2 linked regions of the Homo sapiens genome follow. The protein of the gene in region 1 interacts with the protein of each later gene in a biochemical or structural test. Each region holds a gene or a part of one and is shown in the gene's direction. Other genes may lie near its edges.

Evidence for each region.
Region 2: of the proteins of PTPN22 (region 1) and PDPK1, one has a biochemical effect on the other in vitro, tested with the Homo sapiens proteins (one large-scale study listed by IntAct).

The regions. Positions count from the first base shown.
Region 1 is NC_000001.11:113,861,543-113,865,358, reverse strand, and holds part of PTPN22 (tyrosine-protein phosphatase non-receptor type 22), read left to right. Parts: intron 1-1,081; exon of another isoform or gene 1,082-1,161; intron 1,162-3,816. UniProt on the Homo sapiens protein: Acts as a negative regulator of T-cell receptor (TCR) signaling by direct dephosphorylation of the Src family kinases LCK and FYN, ITAMs of the TCRz/CD3 complex, as well as ZAP70, VAV, VCP and other key signaling molecules.
Region 2 is NC_000016.10:2,554,809-2,558,624, forward strand, and holds part of PDPK1 (3-phosphoinositide-dependent protein kinase 1), read left to right. Parts: intron 1-2,894; coding exon 2,895-3,155; intron 3,156-3,171; exon of another isoform or gene 3,172-3,816. UniProt on the Homo sapiens protein: Serine/threonine kinase which acts as a master kinase, phosphorylating and activating a subgroup of the AGC family of protein kinases.

The DNA.
Region 1 (3,816 bases):
CTGTACTTAAACTGTATCAGGTAAAAATCATGACTTTTTTTCTGATATAACTAGCATAAAATAGTACTTTATTATGTTAATTTCATTCATTGGATTTCTGAGCCTTAAAATGTTCCATGATTATTTTAAATCTGCATTTCCTTATATACGTTTTCTGTTCATCTACTTTCCACAGTAACAACAGCTAATCCATAGAACTGTGTTCCAGACTCTGTGCTAAAAGTGCTTCACAAATAGAACTTCATTTACCTCCCAAAGAACCTTTTAAAATGGCTATCAATGTCCTACATGGTGTCTCTCCAGCTTCTTATAGCATGCTCATTTTCTTGTCCTTGCCATGCTTCCTCTGCCATAGGGCCTTGCACACATGTTGTTACCTCCGCCTTGAACATTCCTCACACTCCTCTTTACCTAGATAACATTTGGTAATTTTTTTTTTTTTTTTTTGAGACGGAGTCTCGCTCTGTCACCCAGGCTGGAGTGCAGTGGCACGATCTCTGCTCACTGCAACCTCTGCCTCCTGGGTTCAAGTTATTCTCCTGCCTCAGCCTCCTGAATAGCTGGGACTACAGGTGTGTGTCACCATGCCCGGCTAATTTTTTGTGTTTTTAGTAGAGACAAGGTTTCACTGTGTTAGCCAGGATGGTCTCTCGATCTCCCGACCTCGTGATCTGCCCACCTTGGCCTCCCAAAGTGATTATAGGCGTGAGCCACCATGCCTGGCCTTTTTTTTTTTTTTTTTTTGAGACAGGGCCTCACTTGGTCATCTAGGCTGGAGTGCAGTAGTGTGATCATGGCTTACTGCAGCCTCAACCTCTAGGGTTCCCATCTCAGCCTCCCAAAGTGTTGAGATTACAGGTGTGAGCCACCATGCCCGACTAATAATTCTTTAGATCTCAATTTGGTGGTCAATTCTTCAAAGAAAGCTTTCTTTTCTTTTCTTCTTTTCTTTCTTTTTTTTTTTTTCTGGAGACAGGGTCTTGCTCTGTCACCCAGGCTGGAGTGCCGTGGCTTGATCATAGCTCACTGCAGACTTGACTTCCTGGACTCAAGTGATCCTCCAGCCTCAGCCTCCCAAAGTGCTGAGATTACAACCATGAGCCACCACACCTGGCCAGAGAAAGCTTTCTGGACCTCTTTGAATAGATCAAATCTTCTATTGTAAGTTCTTATTAGCACCATTTGTTATTTTTCATAGCACTTACCACAATTTCAGTTTTTTGTTTGTTTGTTTGTTTGTCTGTTTTGAGATGGAGTTTTGCTCTTTTTGCCCAGACCAGAGTGCAATGGTGCGATCTTGGCTCACCGCAAGTGACTCTCCTATCTCAGCCTCCCGAGTAGCTGGGATTGCAGGCAAAGTTGCAGTGAGCCGAGATCGCGCCACTGCACTCTAGCCTGGATGACAGAGTGAGATCCCATGTCAAAAAAAAATATATATATATATATATATATTTATTAAATATAAAGGATTCATTGAATCCTAACAGAAAGAAGATACCTAGTTCTGAAGGCCAGGTTTAGGTGCTAACAGTTTAAACTATACTAGAAATCAGACTGGTACTATTGCAACTTCTGGAGATTCATTAGAAGACCAGAGACATATCAAAGATCTGGCTACATCTTGGTTCTATAAAGGAGACATAGATACATCCTGGTTCTGTGTATATTATAGTAATGATACTAACCAAACAGTTATCAACAAGGTACTTCCTACAGAGCAAGTGCACAAACATCTATGAATTGACACTACTCATTCCTGTGAATCAGCCTATCACTTGAACATATTTATCAGCATTTCTTGACCTTTGTGCACATTAAGGTGCAATTTTTAAAAATGCCACCACCAGAATAAATGTATCACATCACCTCTGAAGCTGATTTCTCTAACACCATCTCCAGCCTCTCACTAGGGACCATCTAGTCCTACATTTTCATTTACTCACAGGACACTTAAAACACATTTCTTGGCTGAGCGCAGCGGCTCACGCCTGTAATCCCCACACTTTGGGAGGCTGAGGCAGGCGGATCACTTGAGGTCAAGAGTTCAAGACCAGCCTGGCCAACGTGGTAAAACCCTGTCTCTAATAAAAATACAAAAGTTAGCTGGGCATGGTGGCAGGTGCCTGTAATCCCAGCTACTCAGGAGGCTGAGGTGGGAGGATCACTTGAACCTGGGAGGCAGAGGTTGCAGTGAGCCAAGATTGCGCCACTGAACTCTCTGCTGGGTGACAAGGCAAGATTCTGTCTCAAAAACCAACCAACCAACCAACAACACACACATTTCTTGCCATTTTCTCACATTTTATGTATCTAAAGTTGAACCTCTTGGTTTACTCACCCCAATTTAGCTATTGCCTACCCACCTACCCATTTGCCCCACTATTGCACTGGAAACTAACCTCGATAAGTTTGTCAGTCTTGTTGAAGATGATTGCATTGCACGCTCGTACAATTCAGTCTTGTCCTCCATTCCTACTGGTAGTTCTCCTGATTACTGGATTTAGAAGCCTGAGCTCCTAATGCCATTCCTTACCACTTGTACTTCTTCTGTCCTGATGGAGGCTTGGTATAATACTGACCTATATTTGCAAGGCACTGAGGAACTACCTTGCAGAGTTCTCGAGACAGCCAAACTTTGTGTTCTCCCACCTAGCACAGGAGGGCCAAGTTTAATTTTCCTCTCCCTAAAATGTATCTAAAATGCTACGTCTTCTATCCAGTAATGTAGTCCTTCAAGGCAAAGATATCGTGGTCTTGTGCTTTCTTTTACTTTCTGTTCTTTTTTGGGAGTGACTTTATTTTATTTACTAGTCTGTGAGAATAACATGCAAATGACTCAATCCGAATTTCTAGAATCTAATACTCCTTGTTATACTGGCCAGGATCCCCATTCTCCTCTCCTTTCTTGAAACGAAAGGGGTAGTATCATCTACAAACCAAATGAACTTACTATTAGCTTATCAAGCACACACAGAATCTGGTTTCTCACACATTCCACCCTATTTCAGGGCCCACGAGGGATGTTGAGCTCTCTCTTCACTTTATTCTCTTTTTTATTTTTATTTTTATTTTTTTTGAGGCGGAGTCTCACACTGTCACCCAGGCTGGAGTGCAGTGGTGTGATCTCAGCTTACTGCAATCTCTGCCTTCCAGGTTCAAGCGATTCTCCTTGCCTTAGCCTCCTGAATAGCTGGGATTACAGGGGTCTGCCACCATGCCCAGCTAATTTTTTTTGTATTTTTGGTAGAGACGGGGTTTCACTATGCTGGCCAGGCTGGTCTCGAACTCCTGACCTAGTGATCTGCCTGCCTCGGCATCCCAAAGTGCTGGGATTACAGGTGTGAGCCACCGCACCCAGTCTCTTCACTTTATCCTCTTGGCAACTATTCCCCTGACTTCTCTTGATGGTACTTCCTCTAGGGAACTCACACCCCTACCTTGTAGTTGGCAAAGAAATACCTTCACCCTTTAGATCTCATATCTTTTCTTCACAAACTTAAACCCATCCCCATGACCCTGCTTCCTCTTTTATACCCTTTTGCTTTCTACTTTCAGGGTTCCTCCTTTTCTGGTGTAGTTTATTACTTTTTCTGCCCTAATTTTGCCCTAATTTGTTCTTTCTTGGGATATTGGAGCCCGGGAGTCTGGCAGGAAGAGAGGTGGAAGAGAAAAATGAAGCCTGCCGGGCGCGGTGGCTCATGCCTATAATCCCAGCACTTTGGGAGGCCGAGGTGGGGGGATCACTTGAGGTCAGGAGTTCAAGACCAGCCTGGCCAACATGGCGAAACCCTGTCTCTACTAAAAATACAAAAAAAA
Region 2 (3,816 bases), on another chromosome or scaffold:
TTTATTTTTCTCATAGTAATCATCATCATCTGACACGCTGTGCATTTTCCTGCTCTGTGTATGGAAGTCTGTCTGTCCTGCTGGAATGCAGGCTTCTGGAGGGTGTGGTCTTGGTTTCGTTCTCTGCTGTACTTCCAGTGCCCAGGACGGTGCCCAGCATGGAGTAGCTGCTCAGCCAATGCTGTGGTCTTGATGGGACTGCATTCGCTTTACATGATTGAAGCTGCTGGCGTGGAAGCTGTGCCATGTCATGTAAAGCATGCAGTGGGAAAGCAGTGGGGTGGGGGCGTCTTTGTATTACATCATCTGTTGTTGCCGTTTCAAAAATCCAGAGGCCTTTCTACACTTCAGTTGGATGTTGATTTCAAAATGACCGATGTTTCTTTCTGACTCATGAAGGCTGCTGTCTTTGGAATCTGACATTAGAGGGAAGCGAAACTTTACAATGTGTGGGGCAGCCTGGTGTGGTGGCTCAGGTCTGTAATCCAGCACTTTGGGAGGCCAAGGATGGCGGATCACTCGAGCCCTGGAGTTTGAGACCAGCCTGGGCAGCATGATGAGACCCCATCTCTACAAAAATTAGCTGGACACGGTGGTGCACACCTGTGGTCCCACTACTCAGGAGGCTGAGGTGGGAGGATCACTTGAGCCTAGGAGGTCGAGACTGCAGTGAGCTATGATCATGCCACTGAACTCCAGCCTGGGAGACAGAGTGAGACCCCGTCTCAAAACAGAAAAAAAGTCACCAGGCATGGTGGCACATGCCTGTAATTGCATCACTTTGGGAAGCTGAGGCAGGCAGATCACTTGAGTTCAGGAGTTCGAAACCAGCCGGGACAACAAGCAAAACCCCATCTCTATTTTTTCAAAATTTGTGTATATAAAATTTTTGTATGAAAGCTGTGTGGTACATGTTTAGCTGTTTTATGTTTCACTTTCTGGACATGAGTGTGATCCTCCCTGCTCTTGCAGTGCCATCTAAGCTGTCATCAGTTTTCCTGGGCGAGTGATGCATCTCCCCAGCTGGTCTGTCTGAGCCCCTGGCCAGCCAAGGGGCTGCCCTTGACTCTCCCGGCACCCGCCCGTCTCTGCATAGCCACCCCCACCACTTTAACTGGATGGTTTTGTATTGAGGTCAGGCTGGACATCAGCTTTCTATGGGCAGGGACCGTGTCCTCTTATTGGCTGAGTAATTGGGTCCATAGCGTAGGTAAGTCACCTCCTTTAAGAGACTTTGATAAGCAAAATAGTGAATATATTCTTTTTATTTATTTACTTATTATTTTTTATTTTTGAGGCAGGATCTCCCTCTGTCGTCCAGGCTGGAGTGCAGTGATGTGATCTTGGCTCATTGCAGCCTCGACCTCCCCGGGCTTAGGTAATCCTCCTACCTCAGCCTCCCAATTAACTGCGACGACAGGCACATGCCACCGTACCTGGTTAATTTTTATATTTTTAGTAGAGGTGAGGTTTTGCTGTGTTTGCCCAGGCTGGTCTTGAACTCATGGGCTGAAGTGATCCACCCACTTTGGCCTCTGCGCCCGGCCTATTTTTTTTTTTTTTTTTTTTTTTTGAGACGAAATTTCACTCTTGTTGCCTAGGCTGGAGTGCAATGGCATGCTATCAGCTCACTGCAACCTCTGCCTTGCAGGTTGAAGCGATTCTCCTGCCTCAGCCTCCCAAGTAGCTGGCATTACAGGCATGCGCCAACAAGCCCGGCTAGTTTTTTTGTATTTTTAGTAGAGACGGGATTTCTCCATGTGGTCAGGCTGGTCTCGAACTCCTGACCTCAGGTGATCCTCCCGCCTCTGCCTCCCAAAGTGCTGGGATTACAGGCCTGAGCCACTGTGCCCGGCCTAATTTTGTATTTTTAGTAGAGAAGGGGTTTATTCGTGTTGGTCAGGCTGATCTTGAACTCCCGACCGCAGGGGATCCACCCGCCTCATCCACCCAAACTGCTGGGACTACAGGCATGAGCCACCAAGCCCGGCCGTTTTTAGCGTTTAAAAGGATTGCAGCTTGGCTGGTGGCAGTCCCTCTGTCCTGGCACAGACGCAGGGGGAGACCCTGTGTCTTCAGACAGCATGGACTTCAGGACCCTACTGAGAGATGGAATCAAGAGCTCTCCGGGGTTCTTTGAGTGGGGAGTTGTATCGGAAACCACCATCAGCGCGCCTGAGCTCGCCTCGCATTGTTCTTCTGTAGTGCGGGGGGCCACTGCCACCACCGTGAGGACACGTTGGGGTCTGGGGAGGGATTGTTATGGCTGTGGGTGCACCTTGCACGTCTTGCCGACCTAGCTTTGCACGCTGATCTTCCCTCCGTGCCCGCTTACATTGTTAACTGGGTTTCTGCCCTCCCTCCTCTCCTTCGTATTTCTGTGTCTCATTGACAACTGTTCTGTAGTCGCTTTGTTGACAGTTGCCAAACTGCTTTCCAAAAACATTTCCACTGCAATCCCGGTTTTTGGTGCCAGCCGCAGTGGTGTGAGTGCGCTCGCTTTATTATAGTCTTGCCAGCACTGGGCGTCTCTGTGTATTGTAAACACATGCGATCATCACTCTTATCTCTCCATCCCCCCCACAATTAAAGATGTGCCGTGCTATCTCTGCTCAGGTTACCTTGGCCTTGGGATGAGTTGGCTGGAGGCTCAGGCAGCGCGAGGGACAGGAGGAGGGCGAGGCGCTGCCTGGTGGATTAGCGGGGAGCCATGGCACGGGCAGGACTCAGGAGAGGAGGCCGGCAGCTCACAGCAGACCGCGGGGCTCAGCTGGCCTGCCCTGTGCTTGGGGTTTGTTTTTGAGCGTTGAAATGAGGTCCTTAAACCTTAGTCCGTGCATTGAGAGCAAGGCAGCTGCCTTGAGCCTTACTTCCTTTTCCTCTTTGTCGCCTAGTATGACGCCGTGCCCATCCAGTCCAGCGTGGTGTTATGTTCCTGCCCATCCCCATCAATGGTGAGGACCCAGACTGAGTCCAGCACGCCCCCTGGCATTCCTGGTGGCAGCAGGCAGGGCCCCGCCATGGACGGCACTGCAGCCGAGCCTCGGCCCGGCGCCGGCTCCCTGCAGCATGCCCAGCCTCCGCCGCAGCCTCGGAAGAAGCGGCCTGAGGACTTCAAGTTTGGGAAAATCCTTGGGGAAGGCTCTTTTTCCACGGTGAGTATTTGCTGCTGCTGTGTGTCAAACGTACGTGATTTCCTTGGGGAGGCTCACCTTCCTCGGGGCTTGCCGGAGACTCCAAGCAAGGCTGGTGTCCTTCCAGGCAGGAGGTCTCAGGCCCCTTGAGGGGTGTCACCTGTTGTGAAGGCCACTTGAGTCTTTGGGGGCTGGGTACCCCCCAAGCAGATGACGTGATGAGTGTGGCTAAATATTTAACCTGGTTTTGTAGATGAGAACGTTAGACACATCTCTTGATGGTCTGCGGAGGTTTTTTCTGATGTAGTTAATTTCATTTTAACCTGGCATCAGCAAGTTACATTCTGTGTCCTTGTGTCTCACTGGCAGGGCCCTGGGAAGCTGTTCTTTTTCTTAGATTGAAAGTTAGTATCTCTCCAGGGTTTTTGGGGACATTTATTGACCTCTTCTTATTTCTCTGTTTTGTTTTTTTGAATACATAAAACAGTACGCTCTGGACATTTGCTGGAGACACAGCCTCCAGAGTCTTGTGTTCCGAGTTTCACAAACAGGAGTATTGTCGCAGTACTGTCAAGTCACACTTGTTACCTGTCTTCGGGGTGTTTTTTCCTCTGAAAGCAAAGAAATGAAGGTCGAAAGCAGCTGACATGGGACGTTTTGCTGACGTGGGACCCATGAAGCC